3 separate regions of the Homo sapiens genome follow, and regions 1 and 3 are each linked to region 2. The links come from fine-mapping of genetic effects on plasma protein levels. A gene starts in region 2. Each other region holds a variant in brackets. All regions are shown on one strand. Distances are between the middles of the regions.

Region 1 (8,272 bases), 72 kb before region 2:
AAAAAGAAATTCATTTTATATATTGAATCATTATTTTGTAAGTTGTGAAATAAGCAATTGCAGTTTTCATTATGATTTTTCCCCAGTAACCAGGTATTCTAATTTTTAAAAAGAGCTAGAGGGCAGGGATTCAGAAAGATGACACGCCCTCTGCTTTTCCGGCTTTTGGCATTGTGTGAGGATGTAATGCATGGAGCTGCTAATGCAAGCTTGTGAAGATGAGGGGTGCTAGCGCATATGATGAGGATGGCAGACCTGATAGGTGGAAAGATCTAGGTCATCCTGACAACATTAAGCAGCTGAACTCACTGATCCCAGAGCCTCAGGCCACCCCACCCAGCCCTTACCATCTCCTGTCCTACTGCCATGGGAGGTAATACACTTTTTCCTTATTGTTGAAGCTGCTTTATTTGATTTTCCTATTACCTGCAGCCAAAAGCATTGTGATTAATACACTGGTCTCGTGCTGCTGGAAATGAATCATGCCTCCTGTAGGGTTGTATCCAACAACAGACACATGGCAGGTGTCTGTTATACCATCCACAAGATACAATGTGTTTGTTTTGCAGAAATTGTCTCTATCACCTGTGGGCTTTTGCTACCCATAGAGCTACTTGTACCTAATTCAACCAATAAAAATAATGCTAGAAACTGAAGCCAACAAAGCTGTCAAAATTTGTCTTGGGTTCTTGGGTTAGACAACTTGTTGAGATTTTATAATACATTTCCTTTTCTCTCCTCTTTTTCTAGGTTCTTTCCTGCTGGATGCGAAACACTCAATTATCACTTCCTCATGTGTGTAGTCTCCCTCACTGAGTCAGCTCTCACTGGGGCCTTCCCATGACTTGTTTGTTGTCTTTATCTGTCTGAAGCCTCATCTTCCTTTGACATTTATCTTCATCTGGAAATTCTATAATCTTCCTTTTCCTCTTGTCTTGATCTTACATAAAATCAACATTGTCCATTGAAAGTTATGTTTAAGAAGCATTGTTAACAAAACTATCATGAAGTCCCTTGTACCTTGTTAAAAACCACTGTATTCATAACTTTGTTGTTTTTTTCAAATATATTTTTCTCTGGATTGAAACTGCTTACCATTCAGGTCATTGGAAGTCTCTTCATTCCCATTAAACTCTTTTTCAGGTTTGACATCTTTGTCCTCTATTAACTCAACTTTGAGTATCTCCTTTTTAATCCAACAGAAAAAGCTCCTCCCCTATCCTTCCAGCCCCATGACTGTAAGATAAAAAATTTCCTGCTACAGGCATCTTGCAGGCAATGTGCCAGACAGGCAATGCATCAAACAGCCGACATTGATCAGAACTCAGCCCTTGTCATATATCTCTTCCTAAAATGCCTAGCAGAATAATTTGTTGAGTACATGCTCAATAACTTAAATTGTTTTGAATTAAATCAAATTAAAGTCTTACAGTCACTACTGGAGGGAGAACAGGCAACATGTATGAATTTTCACTGTTTTGGAGCACATGGAAAAGAACATCAATACTAGTAGCATCTCAAGATCCCAGTGGCTAGACCCAGCCTACACACGACAGTCAAAATTTACTATTTATGATGTGGATTATCTCATACTAGTCCATTGCTTCACTTTCTACTGACTGACACCTCTGGCACATTTCATCCTTTTTCTTCTTTTTCTTTTTTTAGAGACGGGGTCACCCAGGCTGGAGTACAGTGGCATAATCATAGCTCACTGCAGCCTCGCTCATGAACTCAAGTGATCCTCCCACCTCAGCTGACCAAATAGCTGGGACTAGAGGCATGCCCACCACACCCGGCTAAGCACCTTTGATTCTAATATTGAAAATATCATTATAAAATATCTAGTAGGTATGGATTAATGAATGAGTTAAATGGCAGATGTTTGACCCTAATAAGTAAAGGTTTCGGGACGCCAGGGAGATGGTAATATCTGGGATCTTCTTAGGCCTCATTACCAGGACATAAAGAAACAAAATGAAGTTTCTCAAAATGCCCATTTAATACATTATTTTTTATCGTAATAAACATACGGCCTTTTCAGATCTTATTTTTGTTCCTTCTATTGTTAGTCCTGAGTGTTTGCCTATGGTGACAGCCAGATTTCATTTCATTCATTCATTCATTTATTCATTCTGACCATCATCTGGGGGCCAAGCACTGTGGTGGGTACTCAGGGTGCACCAGTGAACAGAACAGACAAAGCCCTGCCCTCTTGGAGTTTACATTCTAGTGCAGGCAACATGGGAATATAATAAATCCATAAACTCAGGAAGAACTTAGTTCTTTTTAGATCAATAAGGCCTGACTGTGAACTGTGAACTGTGAAGGGACAGATTCCCTGAAGAGGTACCGAGACCTCATTTTAAAAGAAGACTTTTTATTTTTGGACATTCTTTAGATATTGACTTTTTCTGTTCTCTAGTAGAAGTATCTTGCAGCAAGGAATAGAAAGACTGAAGTCAATTGATGCGATATTAGGAAAGTCCTGTCTTTTGCTTCTCTGGGCCCCTGTGTGGACTTCTGTGAATGAAAGAATAAAAAACAAAGTGCTTTTCCTATGCTCTTACTCAACAACAATCAACACAGAAGACTTCTGTGACCTCTGGGCACGAAGAAGTTTGTGGAGATTTCTCCCAACCAGCAGCCAATCAATCAATCCAGCAGAGGACACTAGCTGGGTGTCCTCTTATTCAATTCAATTCTGATGCTATCTACCTGGAGACAGCATCAGATCCCACAGGTTGAGGGCTCAGTCCCACAAAACTGCCCTCCACCGCCCCAGGATCCTCTCCTTTTTTTAGGGTCCATTGATTAGCAACCTTAATTCTATATGGAACCTTAACTCCCCCCTGCCAAATGAGGGGGAAAAACACACCCAAAGCGTTCCCTCTATTCTCTCACTTAAACAATCAACACAGAAGACTCCTGTGACCCAATTGAGGAGGTGTTTTTCCCATCCACCAAGCAAGCAAACAATTCCTCAGTGGACACCAGCTGGGTGTCCTCCAATTCAATTCGATTCTGATGCTATCTACCTGGAGAGAGTGTCAGATCCCAGAGATTGAGGGCTCAGACCCATAAGACTGCCCTACCCCCAACACACACACCTTCCCATGCAGATCGCAAGCCCCAGGTTGTATTATCTGTGCTTCTGACCAACTGGCTATACACTAGGGTTCCCACAACCCCGCCGGGTTCCCTTAATTTGTTAGGGCAGCTCACAGACCTCAGGGAAACACTTAAGTTTTCCTGTTTATTATAAGGGATGTTACAAAGGATACAGATGAAGAGATGTGTAGGGCAAGGCATGCAGGAAGGGACACAGAGCTTTCGTGCCCTCCCTGGGCACACCACCTTCCAGGAACCTCCACTGTCTGGAGGTTCAGCTACCTGGAAGATTCCAGAACATAGTCCTTTTTGATTTTTAAGCTTCATTAGGGAGGCATGATTGATTAAGTCATTGGTCATTGGTGACCAACATAATCTTCAGCCCTTCTCCCCTTCTCAAGGTTTCGGGGTGGGGCTAAAAGTCCCAACCCTCTAATCTTGCCTTGGTCTTTCTGGTGACCAACCCCATCCTGAAGCTACCTAGGAACCGCCCCTATTAGTCAATTCAATAGCACATACAAAGCCACTTATTACTTTGAAGAGTCCAAGGATTTTAGGAGTTGTATGCCAGGAAACTGGAGGATAACCAAGTACTGTATATATTTCACAATATGACAGCCTCACTTTCCATTATAACAAAATAAGGAAATTAGATAATCAACAAGGCTCTCTGTAGCTCTGAAATATTAACACTGTGATTTTATGGAACACATATAAGAAATCCTCTAGCTTTTTTTATTTGACTTTTCCAGCAGTTAACGTGTTTTTTTAAATATCAGAAATCTAAGTGGTCAATACTCTTCTTAAATGAGTTTGTCTATCAGATTACCTCATTTTATAAATTTATTATAGAGAAGTTGCTGCAATCTTAGCATTTCTGTGAATTGGAGACCATGATTCAGACTTGTTGATGAGGTCCAGAATAACTGAGGGACATATCTCAGTAGGGTTTAGATTGTCAATAAACGAAATCAAGGAGGTATCTAAAGGAGTTCTGATCTTGCTTATTAGAAAAAGTTCAGGAAACACAGCAGAGAAATAAGTTAAAAAAAAAAATCTCTGGAGGCAGTAGGATCTGACCAGAGAAAACAACCACTAAAATGTTCACAAGTGCCAGGGGGAAGGAGGTAACATTCCTCACATTTACAGACCTTTGAAGCTCATTTTAACTTGGGAACTTTATGGACATAAGGATAAATCCAGGGCTGCCTGGTTAAGGGTCGGGTCTCATTACTCCCTAGTTAACAATTCACATTTTAAAATGAAAGAACCTGATTTAAATGTAATCCTGTCTTTAGGCTTGAAGACAAGTAAAATGCTATTTTTATCTAATACATAAGTAAAAGCAAGAAAATCCCCTCCAGAGAGTGGAAG[C/T]TGTTCATGGCTCTATTGTAATTTCTGTCTGCAAATGTGTGAAAGAAACTTTCAAGGGAAAAATGTTCCAGAAAGTAACCTTTTAAACGTTAAACCACTGCACTTTAGAAAGCAAGATAAAGAGCTTTGTACCCCAAGCTATTTCTCTGTTCCTTTTTTCTTGAGCTAAACCTCCTGTGTAATAATTTCTTTGGAATGCTTTGTTCTGAAGAGATGTTTCATGCGACTGGTGCCTTGTCTCAGTAATCAAAGACACACTGAGTCAAATTTGGCCTTTGGAAAACAACCTGGATAATGACTGCCTGTAATTATGTAAATGTTTAGATAATAACTGATTTTCAATTTAATTTGATGGAGACAAAACTTAGCACATCCTTACCCAATGCCTCTCCTTGTAAGTGGCCACTGTGTCTTCTGGGTAACTTGAGAACCTGGCAACAATATCAGGAACATAGTAGGTGCTTTATAAATAGTTAGTAGATGAATGAATGAATGAGTGAATGCTTAATAAATGTGCTTGATCTGATCCTAAAACAATTTTTTTCCTTTTAGAAATTCAGCCATTTAGTCATCATTTTCTGAAGCATATTTCAAAAGTATACTAATATTGAAGAGTAATTAATAGAAAGCAACTGACACTATGTCTTTGTTAATGCTGCACCCCCTTCCCAAATAAATTTCATGGTTTATGGCTCTCCAGAGGCGAGGGAACAAAGCCACTTGGGAGAAAAGTATCTGCTGAAGTTTTTGGTTTTTGCTTTTCTAAAACTGCCTCAAATTCAGAAAAAAAGGCCATAGTTTTCATGGCTATGGGGTCCACACTCTAGTCTCCATGCAGAATCTTTCCCTAGTGACTGGACTTGTTTTGGCAGCCCTCAGGGTAAATTACTCTCCTCGATAGCCCTCAGCAATCACAGAGGCTTATCTCAAATTCTTCTTGTCGAAATGGGATGTGTACTTGGTCTTACCACTTGAAGAAAAAATGTTTAAACACTGCACAGTTTACCAGATCTTACTTTGAGGTGTTCTCTGGGGTTAGCCAAACAAATGGAGAAGGTCTAAGTAAACTGTTCAAGACTTTCAGCCAACGCTGAAAGTGCAGTGCTGGAATTGCCTGACCCCAGAGAGAGGGTAACTCTGAGCGTGCAGTTTCTAGATCAAGGTCGGGAGGTGCTGACCACAATGGGGCCATGGGTGGAGGGTGATGCCTTAGGCACCACTGAGGAAGTAGAAGAAAGATCTAACCCTGGAGGTATCTTCCTCCTGATTTTTTAGTTTTTCTGGAGAGCCCCTCAGAGTGTGGGAAAGTGTGTAGTGGACTGGGATTTGGGAGTGTTACCTTCCTTCCAGCGACCCTCTACTTTTCTACCCACTTCTTGCTGATACAAAATCTCCAGGTGCAAAATTTCTTGGTGACCTCTGTGCCCCGCTGCAAGCAGCTTCCATAGAAGGCAGATATGACCTCAGCATTACACACAGGCATTTTTAAAAAATAAAGGATGCTATTTAAATTAAGGAACAATTTAAGCAAACAAAAGACAGAATAATAAACAGACTCTATGTGCCCACTACCAGGAGTAAACAGACTTGAACATTTTGCTTATTGATATGGTCTGGCTGTGTGTTCCCACCCAAATCTCATCTTGAGTTGTAATCCGAACTGTAATCCCCAGGTGCTGGAAGAGGGAACTCTTGGGAGGTGATTGGATCATGGGGGCGGTTCTCCCATGCTGTTCTCTTGTGATAGTGAGTTCTCAACAATATCTGATGGTTTTATAAGGGTCTGTTCCCCCTTTGCTCTGTGCTTCTCTCTCCTGCCACCTTGTGAAGAAGGATGGTTTTGCTTTCCCTTCTGCCATTATTGTATAAGTTTCCTGATGTCTCCCCAGCCATTTGCAGCTGTGAGTCAATTAAACCTCTTTTCTTTATAAATTATCCAGTCTGGGGCACTTATAGTAGTGTGAAGCCGAACTAATACACTTACTTACTTTAGGCCTTTTTTTTTCTTTCTTTTTTTTTTTTTTAAGAAATAAGATTTTATAGAGTTAAAAAAAAATCCTCCCTCAATTTAAGTATCTGCACAGCTATTCTTTCTATTCTTTTTTATCTTTGAATTGCTCATAATTAAAATCAAAATAATTTGTATATTTGTAAATTGTTTTGATTTTAATTATGAGCAATTCAAAGATAAAAAAGAATAGAAAATAATACAATGACTATATACCCACCATTGAGATTACATGCATGATACTATTTTGCCTTATTTGTTTTAACCTTGTTCTAAATTTTTATTGTGGAAAATTTCAGACACATACAAGAGTAGGAAGAATAGTATAATGAGCTCCATGGACCCATCACCCAGCTTCAACAATTGTCCACTCATGGACAATCTTGTTTTATCTGTGGGGTAGTTATAGATAATATAGATTCTACATTCTCCCATATGTTATTTATCTATACACATTTCGTCATGTATCTCTTAAAGAGAAGAACGTTAAAAAAAATAACTGCAATGCCATTATCATACTTAAATGTAGCGATAATTCACTAGTGTCTGCTATTAGCCAAAATCCAGTCAATGTTCAAATTTTTTCATTGTAAAAATAATTTTTTTTCAATTTTTGTGTTTGAATCAGGATTCAGATAAGGTCTACACCAAGCTTAAAGCCAACCTGCAGCCTGCAGGCCACACAGGGCCCTGGACAGCTTTGAATGCAGCCCAACACAAATTTGTAAACTTTTTTAAAACAGTATGAGTTTTTTTGCAATTTTTTTCCTCTTAGCTCATCAGCTATTGTTAGTGTTAGTGTATTTTATGTATGGCCCAAGATAATTCTTCTTCTTCCAGTGTGACCCAGGGAAACCAAAAGATTGGACACCCCTCATCTACATATTGACATTGATTTGACAGAGACAGTTATACCTCTTTCTTTCCAATTTTTATTCTTCTAATTGCTTGTTCTTATCTAATTGCATAGACTAGGACCTCCAGCCCAGTATTAAATAGCAGTGGAGATCATGGCTATCCTTTGTCTTGTTCCTCACTTTAATGGAAAGTCTCCAGTGTAATCACGTTAAATAAGATGCCAGCTTTTGAGCTAAAGTATACACACACACAGACATATAATCACATGTATAACATATTAAAAATCACATATGAATATAAAGTATACATTATTTATATATTTCAGTAAATGTTGTACCATATATAACCATATATAATGATATATGTAATTATATATAATCATACGTATTTAAAAAACAAAATAGTCATCAATGTATATTTTTAAGTGTTAAGTTTATCAGGTGCGTTATCTACCTCTGTGAAGATGATTATATGACCTTTTTCTCTTTGTCTTAATATGAAGGATTATGTTATTAAATTTTCTAATAATGAATCCCTCTTGTTAAAGATGATGCTGATTCTTGTAGCAACTAGAATTATAAATGGAAAAGGCTACAAATTATCTCAGAAAAAGAAATCTAGATCTCCTATTTGATAGGGAAAGAGAATTTATGTACCATACATGTGTGTGACTAAAATAATCAACTACTGATGTTTAATTTTTTAAATCTCCCTGTATAACAACTATAATTAGACTTGAGTTTCATATACACCTTTCAGATGCTATTGCCAAGTACATTCCCAGTTTTTAAATATGTTTCTATTCTTTAGCAGAGTAAACAGCAAAAGGTGCTAGAAGGCAAATAAATGTGCAGGGAGACAGAGCAACACGTGCCCAGAGTATTTTGTGCTGCCCAAAGCCATTTGGCTTTGAAGAGATTC
Region 2 (8,270 bases):
CTCGGCTCACTGCAAACTCCATCTCCCGGGTTCAAGCAATTCTCCCACCTCAGCTTCCCGAGTACCTGGGACTACAGACCGGTGTCACCATGCCCAGCTAATTTTTGTATTTTTAGTGGGGACAGGGTTGCACCATGTTGGCCAGGCTAGTCTCAAACTCCTGACCTCAGATGATCTGCCTGCCTCAGCCTCCCTAAGTGTTGGGATTACAGGCATGAGCCACCTCACCCGGCCCCTTAATCCATGTTGAGTTGATTTTTGTATAAGGTGAGAGATGAGGATCCAGTTTCATTCTCCTACATGTGACTAGCCAATTATCCCAGCACCATTTGTTGAAAAGGGTGTCCTTTTTCCACTTCATGTTTTAGTTTGCTTTGTTGAAGATCAATTGGCTGTAGGTATGTAGGTTTATTTCTGGGTTCTTTATTGTTTTCCGCTGGTCTATGTGCCCATTTTTATACCAGTACCAGCACCATGCTGTTTTGGTGACTATGGCCTTATAGTATAGTTTGAAATCAGGTAGTGTGATGCCTCCAGATTTGCTCTTATCCCTTAATATTAAATACTATAATTCTGAATTATCAAAAAGCCTTTAATACTTAACTTTATTTCTGGGTTTTGAGAGATACTTATTTACTAAAAATAAACCATTTTATCACTTCACATAATTTTAGTTCACTGGTTAATTCTATTAAATATTTAAAGAACTAATCCCAAGCCTACACAAGCTCTTTCAGAAAACAGAGCGTGGAACATTTCCCAACTAATTCTATGAGGCCACTATTACCCTGATAAAGGCATCAAAAGAAAAGAAAACTACAGAGTAATGTCCCTTATAAGCTCAGATGCACAAATCCTTAACAAAATATTAGCAAATAGGATCCATCAATACAAAAAAGGATTATGCACTGTGACCAAGTGGAATTTATCCCACATAATTTTGGAGGTTATCTTCCCATGTAATTTTGGGGATAACCCTCCCCTCCCATAATAAAATGTTAATAAATTGAACTCTGGATATCACTTATGGCTTTGTCTAGACAGTGAAAACTTTAACATAAAGTCATTGTACTGATGGGAAACTATTATTGTTGTATTAGAGTAATGAGAAGCAGAGGATGTTGAAAGGAGTCTCAGTTGGTGTGGGAGTGGAACTGCCCTATGTGTTCTTCTTGCCTGCTGCATAGATAGAGCCAATTTACTGAGACAGCATTACTGCAATACAGAAAGAGTTTAATAAATGCAGAGCCAGCTAACAGGAGACTGGAGTTTTATTGCTCAAATCAGTCTCCCCAAAAATTCAGAGACCAGGCTTTTTTAAGGATAATTTGGTGGGCAGGAACTAGGGAGTGGGGAATGCTGATTGGTCAGGTAAGGGATGAAATAATAGGCTGTTGAAGTGGGTTTTCCTTGCTGTCTTCCGTTTCCGAGTGGGATCACAGAACTAGCTGAGCCAGTTTACTGGTCAGGGTGGTGCCAGCTGGTCCATCAGAATGGGGGGACTGACTGAAACATATCTCTAACACCAATCTTAGGTTTTCAATAGTGATGTTATTCATAGGAGCAACTGGGGAGGTTGGGAATCTTATGGCCTCTGGCTACATGATGCCTGAGCCATGATTTGTAATCTGTAGCTACTTTGTTAGTTTTACAAAGGTGCGCTGGTCCCCAAGCCAGGAGGGGGTTTGTTTTGGGAACGTGCTGTTCTCATCTTTGTTTCAAAGTTAAACTATAAACTCAATTCCTCCCATAGTTAGTTCAACCTACACCCAGGAATGAACAAGGACACCTTGGCGGTTAAAAGCAAGATGGAGTCAGTTAGGTCAGATTTCTTTCACTGTTGTCATTTTCCTATGTCAGATTTTTCTCACTGTCATAATTTTTGCAAAGCCGGTTTTAGAAGAATCAGGGACTCAGGCTGACTCTAACAGGAGTATGATTTTGTGTCAGAGAAGAGGGCAGTTATAGAGGAATGTTCCAGAGGGAGAGGGAATGGAATGTGTAAAATGAACTTCTCTGTCTATTCTAATAAAAGGAGGGCTAGCCAGAAAGAAAGAGAACCAGAGGGAAAGAGCAAGGACAACCTACAGAAGCTTCTCCTTTAAGACCATGTATGAAACAATGAATAAAGCCCTCATCCACGCTGGCAGATGCTTAACAAGGTCAGTTTCTCTTCCCTTTAAGGATAATAATTTAAAAATAATCATACCATCTAGTAATTATATTTTACCTCTATTTAATCTTTAAAAGATCAGAATTAGGTTTCCTTTCCGTACTTCACAAATAAGCAGCACATCTGGCCAGCTCCCAAGAATTCGTCAAGGGTTATAAACATTGCATGGGCTGGACTAATTGTGGCTACTTTCATTCTCTCTGATAAGTTTCATTTCCTTCCCTGAAACTTCATGAACTTCCTTTGGGGTATAGCTAATGAAACCATGTGGGATGGGCTGAGACCTTTATCATCTTCAGACATTTGTGTTAAATTGAATATTGTGATGTATCTTTTATGGTCAGCCTTATCACATGCTAGCTCAAGGAGAACAGTTGCTAGCTCAGTTCGAGGCTGCAGAAAAATGGAAGAGAATGAAAGATGATTCTTGCCTTTGTGCAGTTAGCATTCTAGTTTGAAAATACAAACACAATGCACATAATGTAACATGTGACTACAAATCTGTAACTACCATGCATTGAGCAACTACTATGGGACAGACATTGTGCTTACATAAACACACACACTTTAATTCTCACAAAAACCAGGGAGGAGATAGGGTTAACCCCCCCTCCTGCCCCCACCCCTTTTATGAGAAAACTGAGACTTAGAGAAATTGACTCCCCTAAGGTCACCTAGCTAGACAGTGGTGGAACCAGGTTTCAAACTCAGGCAGAGATGTTCCAGGACAAAAGCAGCTTCAGTGAATAGTTGTAGCAAGTTTTAAGGACTGAGAAATTTATATTGAATTTTTCTGCGGCCTTAGGCAAGTTATTTCATTTATAGAAGCCTCGTTTTTCCTTATCTGTGAAATGGCTCTTTCTTCATTGGGTTGTTCTGAGAGTGAATGAGATGATGCATGAAGCCCGGCAGCACATTTCAAATGTATAATAAAAGGTCGGTAAGGTCAATAAGTGAATCAATGAACTCACATCACTGGTAACCCCTCGAACTCACATCACTGGTAACCCTCAGAGGGGACTCAGGCTCCTCAAATCTCAGGATCTGCGTCGACTACAGACCTCACTGTTTTTCTTAAACAAAAATCCTGAAATCCAGGCTGGGCGCAGTGGCTCACGCCAGTAGTCCCAACACTGGGAAGCTGAGGCGGGAGGATTGCTTGAACCCAGTAGTTCAAGACCAGCCTGGGCAACACAGTGAGACCTTGTCTCTTAACAACAAGTCCAAAGGGAATCATGGCCTCCACAATCCCAGTACAGCTAAACAGTTAACTGCCCACGTTCTTTTCCTTAATTCTATACAACCTCCCTGGGGTTTCTGGTTCTTTGGCAAGTGAGAGACGTGCTCCTCAACACTGGGTGAGCACACCGGGCTTGAATTTTAAAAAAGGAGAATCCGCCGGGCACGGTGGCTCACGCCTGTAATCCCAGCACTTTGGGAGGCCGAGGCAGGCGGATCACTTGAGGTCAGGGGCTCGAGACCAGCTTGGGCAATATGGTGAAACCCCGCCTCTAGGAAATAATTTTTAAAATAAGCTGGGTGTGGCGGCGTGCGCCTGTACTCGAGGAGGCTGAGGCATGAGAATCGTTTGAGCCCAGGAAGTCGAGGCTGCGATGAGCGGCGATAGCGCCACTCACTCCAGCCTGAGCGACAGTGAGACTGTCTCAAAAAAAAAAAAAAAAAAGTAAAAGCTCTCAGGGAGCGACTTTTCCCTTGGATAAGGCAGCCACACGCTAAGTCCCCTCTCCATCGGGGACCCTGGGGACAAACAGAACGGTGCGCATTTCCCTCCCCCGTCCCCATTCGGTCACTGCCACGGGCTGTACACCTGAGGGGGAAGGACGGGGGCGGCGGCGCGAGGAGGAAGGGCTTCGCCGCCAATCTGTCCCTAACCAGTCTGCCTCTCAACCCCTGCCTGAGGCGGAGGCGGTGCCCGGGGCGGGCCAAGCGTGACCGCGGGTCGGCGGGGCGTGTTTAAGACCGCGGCGTGCGCACCCGGCCCACGCCAGCTCCCGGCCGCGGCACAGCAGCCCCGGCGCTCCCCGCGCCGCCCCGCGCAGGCGCCCCCGCCCCGCCGTCGCCGCCGCCGCAGCCAGGAGCCGCTGCACCATGCCCCGCATAGATGCGGACCTCAAGCTCGACTTCAAGGATGTCCTGCTCCGACCTAAGCGGAGCAGCCTCAAGAGCCGAGCCGAGGTGGGGGACGTTCGGAAGTCGCAGTGGGGTGGGATTTTTTTTTCCGGGTGGCGCGGGGCAAGTGGGTGGAAGGGGGTGGCACCGGGTTACCCTGCCTGCTTTGGTGTTTGAGACTGGGGCGCTGCGCCCCCGTTCCCGCGCCCCAGCACCTGCCAGGACGTGAGGTGTCTTTAAGGGCGGTGATACGGGGGCCCATGAAATTCTCTACACGTCGGTCCCGTTGGGTGGCCTAGGGGAAGTTCACAGTGAAACTCGACCACAGATGAGCGAGATCCAGTGGCCAGTTGGTTTAGAAGGAATAGGGGTACGAGGGCGCTTATAGCAAGAAAAGGAAACTGGAGCTAGGGGAGAGAGGACGAGAAAAACAACTGCAGATCCCGGTGATTTTTGGCTGCGTCTCCTAGTGCTGATAATTGCTGCTGCTTTCGCTTCGGGTCCAGCGGTGGAACTTCGTGAACGCGTCTGAAAAACCAGAACCCAGGGCACAAGTTCAGGGTTTCCTTTCTGAGTTTGGCGGCCTTGCTGGCAGTGGGGCTTGGGGACTCAGCGGTACTGGACAGCCCGCGGTCCCAGCCTAGCCCTGGAGAAGAGTTTCGAAAGCTTTGGGGTGAGAGAGGTGGGGGCGAATTGGAAGCCTCGGGCATTTCCCTGGTTCTGCCTGGATGTCCTCAAATCCTAAGGAACAGGTGGAGACCGGACTGGAAATAGCCTGAGGCTGGGGGAAGGGAGGCCAGTCCCTGAAGGATAAACTAGTTGCCTGAAAGGCAGAGTGCCCCGGGGTGGTGTGCGCTGGTGACTGGCTTTGCTGAGAGCTGGAGAGGAAGGTGAGGAAACCGGACACGGTTGAAGGCTGGGGCTGAAGGAGTAAACACGAGGAGGCTGGGCCAACCTGCACAGCTCCGTCCACTCAGCTCCACAAACAAGACCATAAATAAATCCCCTCAGCAAAGAAGTCCGCTGCCCACTCCGGTGCCAGGCCTAACTGCAGTGCCTGGGGCTGCCAGCCGAGGGCTTGCTTGGATTGGGGAAGCCTCCGCGTTAGCCAATGACTAAACCAAGTGGCCTTCTGTAAGCAGCAGCATTGGCTGGTTTGGAGCCCGGCAGGACTGGAGGACGTAGGGGAGGAATGATTAAAACTTATCGCCCCAGATTGGGTGACCCTGTGCCTGTCCCTCATGACCTTTCAGGTGCTAAAGAGGGGGCCTCTCTTGGAACAAAAACAGTTTGGAGGGCAGGCCTGGGCCTCTGGAAGCATGAGCTGTAGCCAATTCCTAAGGCAAGACCAAGATGAAATAGGGGGATTCTGGATGTGCTAATAATTTGGTGGCCTCAATATTCTTTAAATATTCAAAATGTATTTAGAAGAGAGAAACTCATTTTTCAGAAAATTGGATGTTCAAAACAAAGATATACCTATTTTCTGAACCAGAAAACATGTTGAGAAGGTAAAATATTGAACATTAATGTAATAGGGCCAGGCACAGTAGCTCACACCTGTAATCCCAGCACTTTAGGAACCTGAGGTGGAAGGATTGCTTGAGGCCAGGAGTTCGAGGCCAGCCTAGGCAACAAAGCAAGACCTCAGCTCTACAAAAATTTAAAAAATCAGCCAGGGCAGTTGTGCACACCTCTAGTCCCAGCTATTTGGAAGGCTGAGGCGGGAGGATGGCTTGAGCCCACGAGCTGGAGATTACAACAAAAATTTAAAAAATTAGGGCAGTGGTGCTCACCTGTAGTCCCAGCTACTTGGAAGGCTGAGGCGGGAGGATGGCTTGAGCCCAGGAGCTGGAGGTTACAGTGAGCTATGATGGTGCCACTGCACTTCAGCCTGGACAACCCTGTCTCTAAAGCTAAAATGAAATTTATGTAATAGAATGAATTACTCCTTCTCGGGGAATACTATCACATCATGCGACAATGTCATGCAACACTTGGCTTCATAATTTGGGCAGATTGTAACTAATGTTCCAGTTTGGGATAGCATCTTTGCAATCTTCATGTACACATTGCAGTGAGAACTCAGTGCCCTTGAGGAGTCTCTTTTGTATTTTTATGTTCGTGGGAGTTTGCCAGCCACGGGCCTGGAGACTCAGGTTAACCAGCATTGCCTTTCTAATCGGTTGCCGTGATGGTTTAGCTCCCTGATGCGTGAGGCTGCTGCCTGGCTGGCCACCCCCATGATCTGACTTTACTTGCCTCGGTGGCGTTGAGGGATCTAGTTAGGCCTCCCTAATCCCCTCTCAATGTTTTCTCAGTTTGCTTGTTGATGCCTGAAATTTTTCACAGGCAGATAAAAACTTTTCCTTGCACAATCAGAAGCTTAAAATATGTGCATCCTGGCAGAAGTAATATCTGGAGGCAAATTGGAAACTGAAGGGTAGATGACCGACATTGAGCCTAACAGCAGATTTGTACAGAGCCAGGAAAGAGAACGTACACCCTGGGAGTAGAGTCTGGCTGAGGGAGGAGGGTTTTGACAGCTGATGATGGGCTTATCCTCGTGACAGTTTTGCTAAGAGCCAGGCCCAGCAATGGATCATCAGGCTATAGCAGGAAACGGACAGTAAGAGTGATCTCCCCCTCAGAAGCTTCAGGACTCCTGCAAGGACATTTCCACCAGCCTTCCATAAATGAACATGAATGAGATGAATCTGAGGTCACCTCTGAGAGGCAAAGAATACAGGTAGCAGTGGCCCAGGTGGCCTTCGCCTGGATTCTCCAGGGAGGCATTCATCTCTCAAATGTCCAGCCCCTGGCATGGAAGAATAAAGCGCCACAGGGTCATGTGGGGACATTTGGATAATCTTTTTCTGAGAAGTGATGAGTTTGTGGATTGAGACAAGACCTTTGTTTTCATCTGTTACGCTGGGGAGCCTGCATTCTCCCTGAGTGTTTTCTTCCTTAGTACCCATTTCTGGCTCTAACATTCTACTCTAGTCCTTAAGCTAGTAAGAATGTACTTATTTATTTATTTATTTAGAGACGGAGTCTCACTCTGTCACCCAGGCTGGAGTGCAGTGGTGTGATCTTGGCTCGCTGCAACCTCCGCCTCCTGGGTTCAAGCGATTCTCCTTCCTCAGGCTCCCGAGAAGCTGGGATTACAGGCACCTACCACGCTCTGCTAATTTTTGTATTTTTAGTAGAGATGGGGTTTCACCGTGTTGGCCAGGCTGGTCTTGAACTCTTGACTTCAGGTGATCTGCCTGCCTCAGACTCCCAAAGTGCCGGGATTACAGGTGTGAGCCACTGCACCCAGCTGATAAGAATTAAAACAAAAACAAAAAATAAACCCCTAAAAAACTTATTAATAAATTATCAGGCATTGAAGAGAATCGCAGCAAATTACTCATTTTGTTTAAGGACAGAGAAGACACAACAGATGTTCAGTCTGCTTAAAACTTCATAGCAGTTTTTTCCCCAGCAGTCCCGTGAGAAGAGTTCTGGTCTAGCTTTCACCGTCTGCTACTGGTTGGCCTGAGGGGGATGAGAACATGGCAGAGTGGCTGGGAGGAAGGATACCTGTGTTTTAGTCCAAGCTCTGTCACTAATTACTTTTTTTTTTTTTTTTTAACCTTTGCCTGTATGCTGGTTTCCTGGGGCTGCTGTAACTGAGGACCACATACTTGGTGGCTTAAGTAACAAGAATTTATTATCTTACAGTTCTGGAAGGTAGCAGTCCCAGTCCAAGATGTTGGCAGGGTTGATTCCTTCTGAGGGCTGGGAGGGAGATTCTGTTTCTTGCCCTTCTCCCAGCTTCTGCTGGTTTGCTGACAGTTGTCCCCAATCTCTGCCTTCATCTCCACATGAGGTTCTCCCTATGTGTGCATCTGTGTCCAAATTTCTCCTTTTTATTTTATTTTTTATTTATTTTTTTTGAGAAGGAGTTTCGCTCTTGTTGCCC
Region 3 (8,000 bases), 47 kb after region 2:
CTCCCGAGTAGCTGGGATTACAGGCACGCGCCACCACGCTCAGCCCATTTTTTTTTTGTATTTTTAGTAGAGGCAGGGTTTCACCATGCTGGCCAGGCTGGTCTCGAACTCCTGACCTCATGATCCGCCCGCCTCAGCCTCCCAAAGTGCTGGGATTACAGGCGTAAGCCACCGTGCCCGGCCTCCGAGTTTCCTTTTACGTCAATGCTGAGAGGTCTCCTAGATGGGGTTAGGAGTTCCATTTAGCTGGAAAAGCAAATGAATGGACTTAGTAGAATTTGGACCTTTGCCCTCAGCTCAGTCCTTGTAAGCAGCTGAGTGTCTTGAGGTTCAGAGCAGCCATTGCCCCCACACTCCCTTTGTCTAACAGGGCACGGGCACGTTTCTGTCACTTGCCAGTAGCCCTGAACCTGCTAGAAACCCACCAGGTGTTTTGGATCCTGCCACTTGGTCCAATTTCCTTCCAGCTGTCCCATTTTACCCTTTATTTGCTGAATTAGCACACTGGTGCCATTGAAGTTCAAAGGAAGCCACAACATGGTGTCTGTTGAGCATGTACTGATACCCAAGAGGCTGGGCTTCAGTCGTGTTTCTGTTGTGGCCCACATGGGCTTCAGAGAGGCAGAGGGAGGAAAAATTCAGGATACTTCCTGCATAGGTGAAGATTAAGGTGGGACCAGTTAATTTTTTGTTATCACACCATTATTTAGAAATACCTAAACAAATTCATTCAAATAATTAATCTTTTTTTTTGAGTCTGGAAAATTTTCCCAGCAAAATGTGTTTAACCTAGGAAAAGTTAGAAATGCAAATAAACATAAAAAGGAAAATAAGTATTAGCAGTAATGCTATCATCTTAAGATAACCACTGGTTCTAAACTTGTTTTTCCATTTTTATAGCTGTGTGACCTTAGGAGAGTTGCTTAACCTTTCTGAGCCTCTTTCCACCGTCCCCGCCGTCTACGCAATATCTCCTTCAGGTTCATGAGTTTGAATGGAAAAATGACTTTTAAGTTCAAAAGAGTTGCTGGTTCTTAGTAGGTGACTGATTTGAACTCCTTTCTCTGCCTACTCCATGTTTGCCATACCATCCTTCCTTTGTTTTAGGAATAAGCAAGTATTTTTCTTTTTTCCTTTTTGTTTTTTCATTGTCAGTATTCAACATAATGTGAGCAAGTATTTTTTTTTTCTTTTTTTTTTTTGAGACAGAGTCTTGCTTTGTCACCCATGCTGGAGTGCAGTGGCATGATCTCGGCTCACTGCAACCTCTGTCTCCCAGGTTTAAGTGATAGTCCTGCCTCAGCCTCCCGAGTAGCTGGGATTATAGGCATACGCCACCACACCCAACTAATTTCTGTAGTTTTAGTAGAGACAGGGTTTCACCATGTTCGCCAGGCTGGTCTTGAACTCCTGACCCTAGGTGATCTGCCTGCCTCAGCCTCCCAAAGTGCTGGGATTACAGGTGTGAGCCACTGTGCCTGTAGCCTGAGCAAGTATTTTTAAGCAAAAGAGGCAGGCTGACAGTTCACAAGTTATCCTTCATGTCCTGTGATGCCATTTGTACTTAAATATAATGTTAACTCTTTTGGAAAAACAAAAAAAGGACTCCTTGTACATTACTGCTTTGAATACTTGCACAGAACAAACAAATTACAAGCCCAAATGTTGTTGTTTTTAACAACCTTTCAGCAGCTATGAATGTTTATGTGTGAAGATGCATGTATGTCTTGATTGCTGGAGCTACACTGCTTCCCGAGAACATGAAAGGACACTTTGAACACTTTTGGAAATATAAACAGTAGCAGGAAGTAGACTGCCATGTCTGTCCTAAGGCATCATGTGAAGTTGGATTGCTCTTGGTTAAATGTACAACCATTAACCATATACAGTTGTTTGGTCTACGCTGACCATTTCACAAGTGCACATACAAAAGCACCCTGTGAGCGGATGACGCCATAAATATGATTTCCTCTTTGCAATACGCCATACAGTTGTATTAACTGTGGATCTCTTGGCCCATCCTGGGAAGAGAAAGGCTGATTTTCTTGGGGTCCCAGTGGCACAGGGCTCCTGATTCAGGCCTCATCACAGACCACAGTAATAAGAAATTTTCAGGACACCACAGGAGACACAAATGAGTGAACAAAAGAGTGATTTTTTTAAAAGTCATACATGTGTAGGACTTATTTTAATGGGAGCATGAGTTTATTTAATGTGTTTGAGGCCAGAAGTGTGAAACACTGTGTAGAGCTGGTTTTGATAAAGAGATAAAGCACTTTAAAATTAATTGGCAGGGCAAGCGAAGGGCATTTTGAGGTTGTACCTTTGAAAGGTAAAATAAATAAATATGCCAGGATTTTGAAGCATTAACAAGGGGTATAGAGCCACAAGCCCTGTCCCTGTCTTCACACAGTGGGTTTGGGCCAGATAACATACGGCAAGACCACCTCTGAAATAATATTCCTCAGTGCTCTGTGGCCCTCTGGGGGTCAGAGAAGCCATGTATGAATAACACATTTGATTGAGGAAATAACTGTGGTCAGTAAATGTTTGTAAAGAAAAGGTCCAGCCTTCACACTTAACCTTTTGATCAGAGCTGCAAAGAAGTAGTGAAATAGTATTGGAGTTCTAGCTCCTGGAGTGACAGGCCTCACTGGTAGATAGAGAAAGGGAACTGAGTCACAGAGACCCTATGTTCTCAGTTTGAGATGTTCTTCACAAGGTGGGTCATCCCATTTCCCTGCTCTCCAACTCCAGAGGTGTGTGCACTTTCCTGCAGGTTGTAACACGGGGTAGCCTGGGCACCCTGTCTTTTCTCTATTCCTTCCCAAAGTGGGTCCCACCTTCTGCGGACAGGTGCTTCCCTCTGAGGTCCTGCTGTTTCTCCTAGACCCACACTTAGCTTTGGGCTGTGTCACTGTCACGTGAGCCCTGACACTGTTGCTGTCTCCCCTTGCACCATGGCTTTCGTGACTGTCCCCGTGTGTCTGGCTGCTGCTCCAGCGTACTGTTGCTGTCCTTTTGCCCCTTGAATTGCGCCCAGGCTACATTAGGAATAGCAGGTAGCAGCCTGGGCATTTGGTGTCTTGTGTTTGTAAGAAAATGCAGCTAGTGGCTGGGCGCGGTGGTGCACGCCTGTAATCCCAGCACTTTGGGAGGCCGAGGTGGGCGGATCACCTGAGGTCAGGAGCTCAAGACCAGCCAGGCCAACGTGGCGAAATCCCGTCTCTACTAAAAGTACAAAAATTAGCTGGGCTTGGTGGTGGGCACTTGTAATCCAGCTACTCAGGAGGCTGAGGCAGGAGAATTGCTTGAACCCAGGAGGCAGAGGTTGCAGTGAGCCGAGATCACGCCATTACACTCCAGCCTGGGCGACAAGAGTGAGACTGTCTCAAAAAAAAAAAAAAACAAAAAAAAAAAAACAGAAAAGAAAAGAAAATTCAGCTAGCTCTGCATCCTAGAAGACTTGTACTGTGTAGCTGGAGTTTAAACATTACCCCCAACAGCTGAACCTTGCTGGGCAGCCCAAGATAACAGACTGGCCCTGCTACACATTAAACCAGCCCAAGTGTGGTCTGCATGGGCAGTGTGGGTGGAAAAACAGATGTTTGATTTTAAGGTAACTTTGTACCATACATGAGGAATAGGAAACATGGAGGTACCTGGAAAGATAAAAGGATTAACTCAATGTCCTTTTCTTGGCTCTTACAAGAATTCAACCCTTGTACTAAATAAATCTCACCTCACACCAGGCAGAGAGGGAAAGGTGACTCCTGAGTGAGAATGAGTGTGGACAGTGGAATGGCTGGGTGTGTTATGTAGGGGGCTGGCATGGGATGAGGGCTGAGCCCCTCTGCCGCTCACAGCCCCTGCTGCCTCCTGCTCTGCAACAGAAGTGTCTGAGCCCAGGCAGGCAGGTGGGCAGTGGGTGGTGCCAGCTTCTGACCCACAGAGGAAGCCTGGATGGGCCTGGGGAGTGAAAGGTGCAATATTGAGGGGAGTACACTCGATCAGACAACAACAGCCGTGGTAGGGGAACTTGGGCCCGTGGGCTTGCTGGGGGCTGTGGTGGGTCTGAACCCCCAGTCACTAGGTCATCTGGGGGGAGGGGACAGCCTGGCTGAGCTCCCGCTGATGATGTCCTGTCCTTGCTTTTTCCTCTGTGAAGGATGGAGGCTGTACGTGTCCAGGGGATGTCGCCAAAG[C/A]CTTTGGTAAGGCCGGGCCCTGGTGCAGAGGGAGGGAAGGAAGGAAGGAGGGAGCTCCCTACACCTCTCCAGCTGGCAACCTGAATGAGGAGGGGGACCTGGTGGGGAAGTTCTGGGTCTCCTGGAGGTTCCTCTCCCTGGGTTTCAGCCCCAATTGGCCCAAATCCTGGACCGTGGCAGAGCAGGTCACAGATGCCCCAGGAGATATCTAGGGGTGACGTCCTGCAAGCCAGGAGTGGGTGAAGTCACGGCCTTTTCATCCCAGGGAAGAGAAAGCTCAAGGGACCTGTCCAAGGGGATGGTGCCAGGTGTGATGTGTAACAACTACAGAGGGGGTTTTTTGGACCCAGCTTGGAGAAGTCCCGTGGAAGGGACAGGAGGAATCCCGCAGCGGTTTCTCCCTGGAGGCTGGAGCCTGCCTCCCGCTAGGGGGCAGCAGTGCCTGCTGTGAGCCCGTGGGATTGGGGATGGGGAGCGGTGGTGGGAGGGCAGCAGGTCCTGAGCTTTTCTCTGGAAAGCACTAGACGCTCCAGCCTCTCAACACCACAAGCAGTAAAGTACGGCTGCCGAGCCATGTGTTGGCCATAGAACTGCAAATGGCATTTGGAAGTCAGAGCTGGCCGCGTGGCTGTGGGCTCCAGAATGTGAAATGGGCGTTGTGGGTGCCGGCGGGAGGCAGAAACGAAGCTCCCATGCCTCCGCCCTTTGCTGATGCCAGAAAAAAAAAAAATGGTGGCAGGAAACTTTATGTCATAGGAATTCTGTTTTTTTGTTTTTTGGTTTTTGTTTTTAATTTTCAGGCTGGGTGCGGTGGCTCACACCTGTAATCCCAGCACTTTGGGAGGCCGAGGTGGGCAGATCACTTGAAACCAGCAGTTTGAGACCAGCCTGGACAATACCCCATCTCTACTAAAAATACAAAAAAAAATACCGGGGTGTGGTGGTGCACGCCTGTAATCCCAGCTACTCAGGAGGCCAAGGTGGGAGAATCGCTTGAACCCGGGAGCCAGAAGTTGCAGTGAGCCAAGATCACGCCACTGCACTCCAGCCTGGGTGACAGAGTGACCCTGTCTCAAAAAAATATAAAAAATAAAAATTAAAAAATAAATGGTCAGACAACAACCCTGATAGTGACAAAGGAAAACACAGGGCAGTGTTCTTAGCAACAAGGTTTCATAGCAACCCAAAGATGTCATGAAAAATGGTATTTAACCTCCTCCTAATCATAGATCCTATCTGTGGAGAGGAATCTACAGACCCTCCACTGATTCCAGCTTCCTATTTTATAGTTGAGGGGACTGAGGCTGTAGGAGGGAATGACAAGGTCACAGCCCTACAATCAGGGGCAGAACAGGGAGAATACAGAGCCTCTGCTAACTAGTGCTGTCACTTACCCTTTATTGTAAGGATCATTGGCCAAGGGCATTTTTATGATTGGTTTTTGAGCTGAATCTACTTAATACAGGTGGTGGTCCATCTTGGACTCTTTTGTGTTGCCTCACACATGCTCTCTGTACAGAGGGAGAGCCAAACACACTTTAAAGTGACTGGTCGTTGAGAAGTGCCTTGTAGATCACAGTTCCTGGCCTTTGGACCACACTCAGCTCAGTCTCCTTTGGGTGCCATTCCCTCCTCCACTGTCTCTCAGTCAGTGCGGCCGTACCTGTGCCGAGACTCAGTGGAGCGAGAGGGACCTTGTCAGGGAAGGATGCAAGGGTGTCCCGAAATGAAAATGGTTGGGAACCCCCTCAAAGCATTCTTTAGTGGGTCTGTGCTCTGCGTTCCTGCTGTTGACATCTGCTCCTTTGCAGCTGCCGCAGAGGTGCTGTGCTCCTGAATTGTCAAGAATCCTGGCTGGACACCAGTTATCCTCTGCCTCCTTAAAATCATGGCAGGAGGACCAGGGAGTCAGCATTCGTGTTAGGAACCCTGAAAGGGGAGGGTCTTAAGAGGTTGCTGCCACTTAGGAAGGTTGCGTTGTGCTTTGCTTCCCTGAGTGCTAGAAAAGCTCGCCTTTCTGTCATGCTGAACTGTAACGCCAATGAAAACCTCAGAGTGCTCTGCCAATGTTTAAATGACCAAATTGAAGGCATCAGGGCCACTTTCAGGGGTTCCTATGTTTCCTCCTCCTGATTAGGATTTGCCAGGCTCCCCTCCTCCTTCATCCTATTACTTAATACATCTGCGCCCTGCTACTGTCTTGTTCTGTTCTAAAGGTAAACCCTCAGTAGGGCTTACTCAGGGGAGGCTGTAGTGAGAGGTGACAGCCCTCACAGCCCTCGCTTGCTGTCCACGCCTCCTCTGCCTGGGCTCCCACTTTGGCAGCACTTGAGGAGCCCTTCAGCCCGTCTCTGCACTCTGGGAGCCCCTTTCTGAGCTGGCCAAGGCCGGAGCCGGCTCCCTCAGCTTGAAGGGAGGTGTGGAGGGAGAGGCGCGAGTGGCAACCGAGGATGCGCGAGGCGCTTGCGGGCCAGCTGGAGTTCCGGGTGGGTGTGGGCTTGGCAGGCCCTGCACTCGGAGCGGCCGGCTGGCCCTGCCGGCCTCAGGCAATGAGAGGCTTAGCACCCGGGCCAGCAGCTGCGGAGGGTGTGCTGGGTCCTCCAGCAGTGCCAGCCCACTGGCGCTGCGCTGGATTTCTGGCTGGGCCTTAGCTGCCTCCCTGCGGGGCAGGGCTCGGGACCTGCCGCCCGCCATGGCTGAGCTTCCCCGCCCCCTCCACGGGCTCCTGTGCGGCGGGAGCCTCCCTAATGAGCGCCGCCCCCTGCTCCAAGGCCCCCAGTCCCGTCAACCATGCAAGGGCTGAGGAGTGCAGGCGCAGGGCGTGGGACTGGTGGGCAGCTCCATCTGCAGCCCCAGTGCGGATCCACTGGATGAAGCCAGCTGGGCTCCTCAGTCTGGTGGGGACGTGGAGAACCTTTATGTCTAACTCAGGGATTGTAAATACACCAATGGGCACTCTGTATCTAGCTCAAGGTTTGTAAACACACCAACCAGCATCCTGTGTCTAGCTCAGGTTTTGTGAATGCACCAATCCACACTCTGTATCTAGCTAATCTGGTGGGGACGTGGAGAACCTTTGTGTCTAGCTCAGGGATTGTAAACACACCAATCAGCGCCCTGACAAAACAGACCACTCACTCTACCAATCAGCAGGATATGGGTGGGGCCAGATAAGAGAATAAAAGCAGGCTGCCGGAGCCAGCAGTGGCAAACCCTTCTGGCTCCTTTTCTTTGGGAGGGTGATTTGTTGTTTCGCTCTTTGCAATAGATTCTGTTGCTGCTCGGTCTTTAGGCCCACACTGCTTTTATGAGCTGTGCTATTTGCCGGGAAGGTCTATAGCTTCATTTTTGAGCTAGCGCAGACCCCAACCCCACCAGAAGGAAAAAGCCTCAGCCGCGCCACCTTATAGAGCTGTTACACTCACAGTGAGAGTCTATGGCTTCATTCTTGAAGTCAGTGAGACCAAGAACCCACCAGTTCCGAACACAGTAGCAGTTCCTTAGTTAATAGGCAATGAAGAATCCCACTGCACAGTGATCCATGAACAAAATGGGGAATGATAACTTTTTTTCCCACGTTTTTACTTTTTTGACAGCTAATCATTCAGCGTCTATCATGTGCTGTGCACTTTGGATCAACATAGAACCAGCCCTGGGCCTGTTCCAGCATAGCCCACAAAGACAGGCAGCTTCAGTACCTCTGTCTCCTGTGCCTGTCCTGGAAATGTGCTGTCATTCGGTGATTAGTCTGGCAGAATATGTACTCTGGAAATCTAATGTGCAGCAGCATGGTGC

Which allele goes with the higher level. Alleles are on the strand shown, and positions count from the first base shown. The strength of an association depends on the size of the effect and on how common the allele is. Not every link is listed here.
In carriers of allele C in region 1, the plasma level of the protein whose gene starts at base 4,176 in region 2 tends to be higher than with T alone (moderate association).

Evidence for each region. PIP is the posterior inclusion probability: the model's chance that the variant is causal. The UK Biobank Pharma Proteomics Project read protein levels with antibody pairs (Olink). The fine-mapping took linkage between variants from a reference panel, not from the people measured, so its PIPs are less certain.
Region 1: its variant is fine-mapped to the plasma level of the GMPR protein (UK Biobank, PIP above 0.99).
Region 3: its variant is fine-mapped to the plasma level of the GMPR protein (UK Biobank, PIP above 0.99). The variant lies in the coding sequence of GMPR. If it changes the protein, the assay may bind it differently, which can mimic a change of level.

What each region holds. Positions count from the first base shown.
Region 1 is chr6:16,162,801-16,171,072 of GRCh38, forward strand. It overlaps a transcript of MYLIP not described here. Among named protein-coding and RNA genes, the nearest start is that of MIR4639, 25 kb to the left of the region's middle. The variant C/T (reference allele first, on the strand shown) is at 4,486.
Region 2 is chr6:16,234,412-16,242,681 of GRCh38, forward strand. GMPR (guanosine monophosphate reductase) reads left to right here and starts at 4,176. Exons shown (of 9, transcript NM_006877.4): 1 at 4,176-4,369. The coding sequence starts at 4,283. RefSeq lists silencers at 3,959-4,058, 4,179-4,278.
Region 3 is chr6:16,281,625-16,289,624 of GRCh38, forward strand. GMPR (guanosine monophosphate reductase) reads left to right here. Exons shown (of 9, transcript NM_006877.4): 7 at 4,169-4,211. Among named protein-coding and RNA genes, the nearest start is that of GMPR, 47 kb to the left of the region's middle. RefSeq lists an enhancer at 4,419-4,548. The variant C/A (reference allele first, on the strand shown) is at 4,206.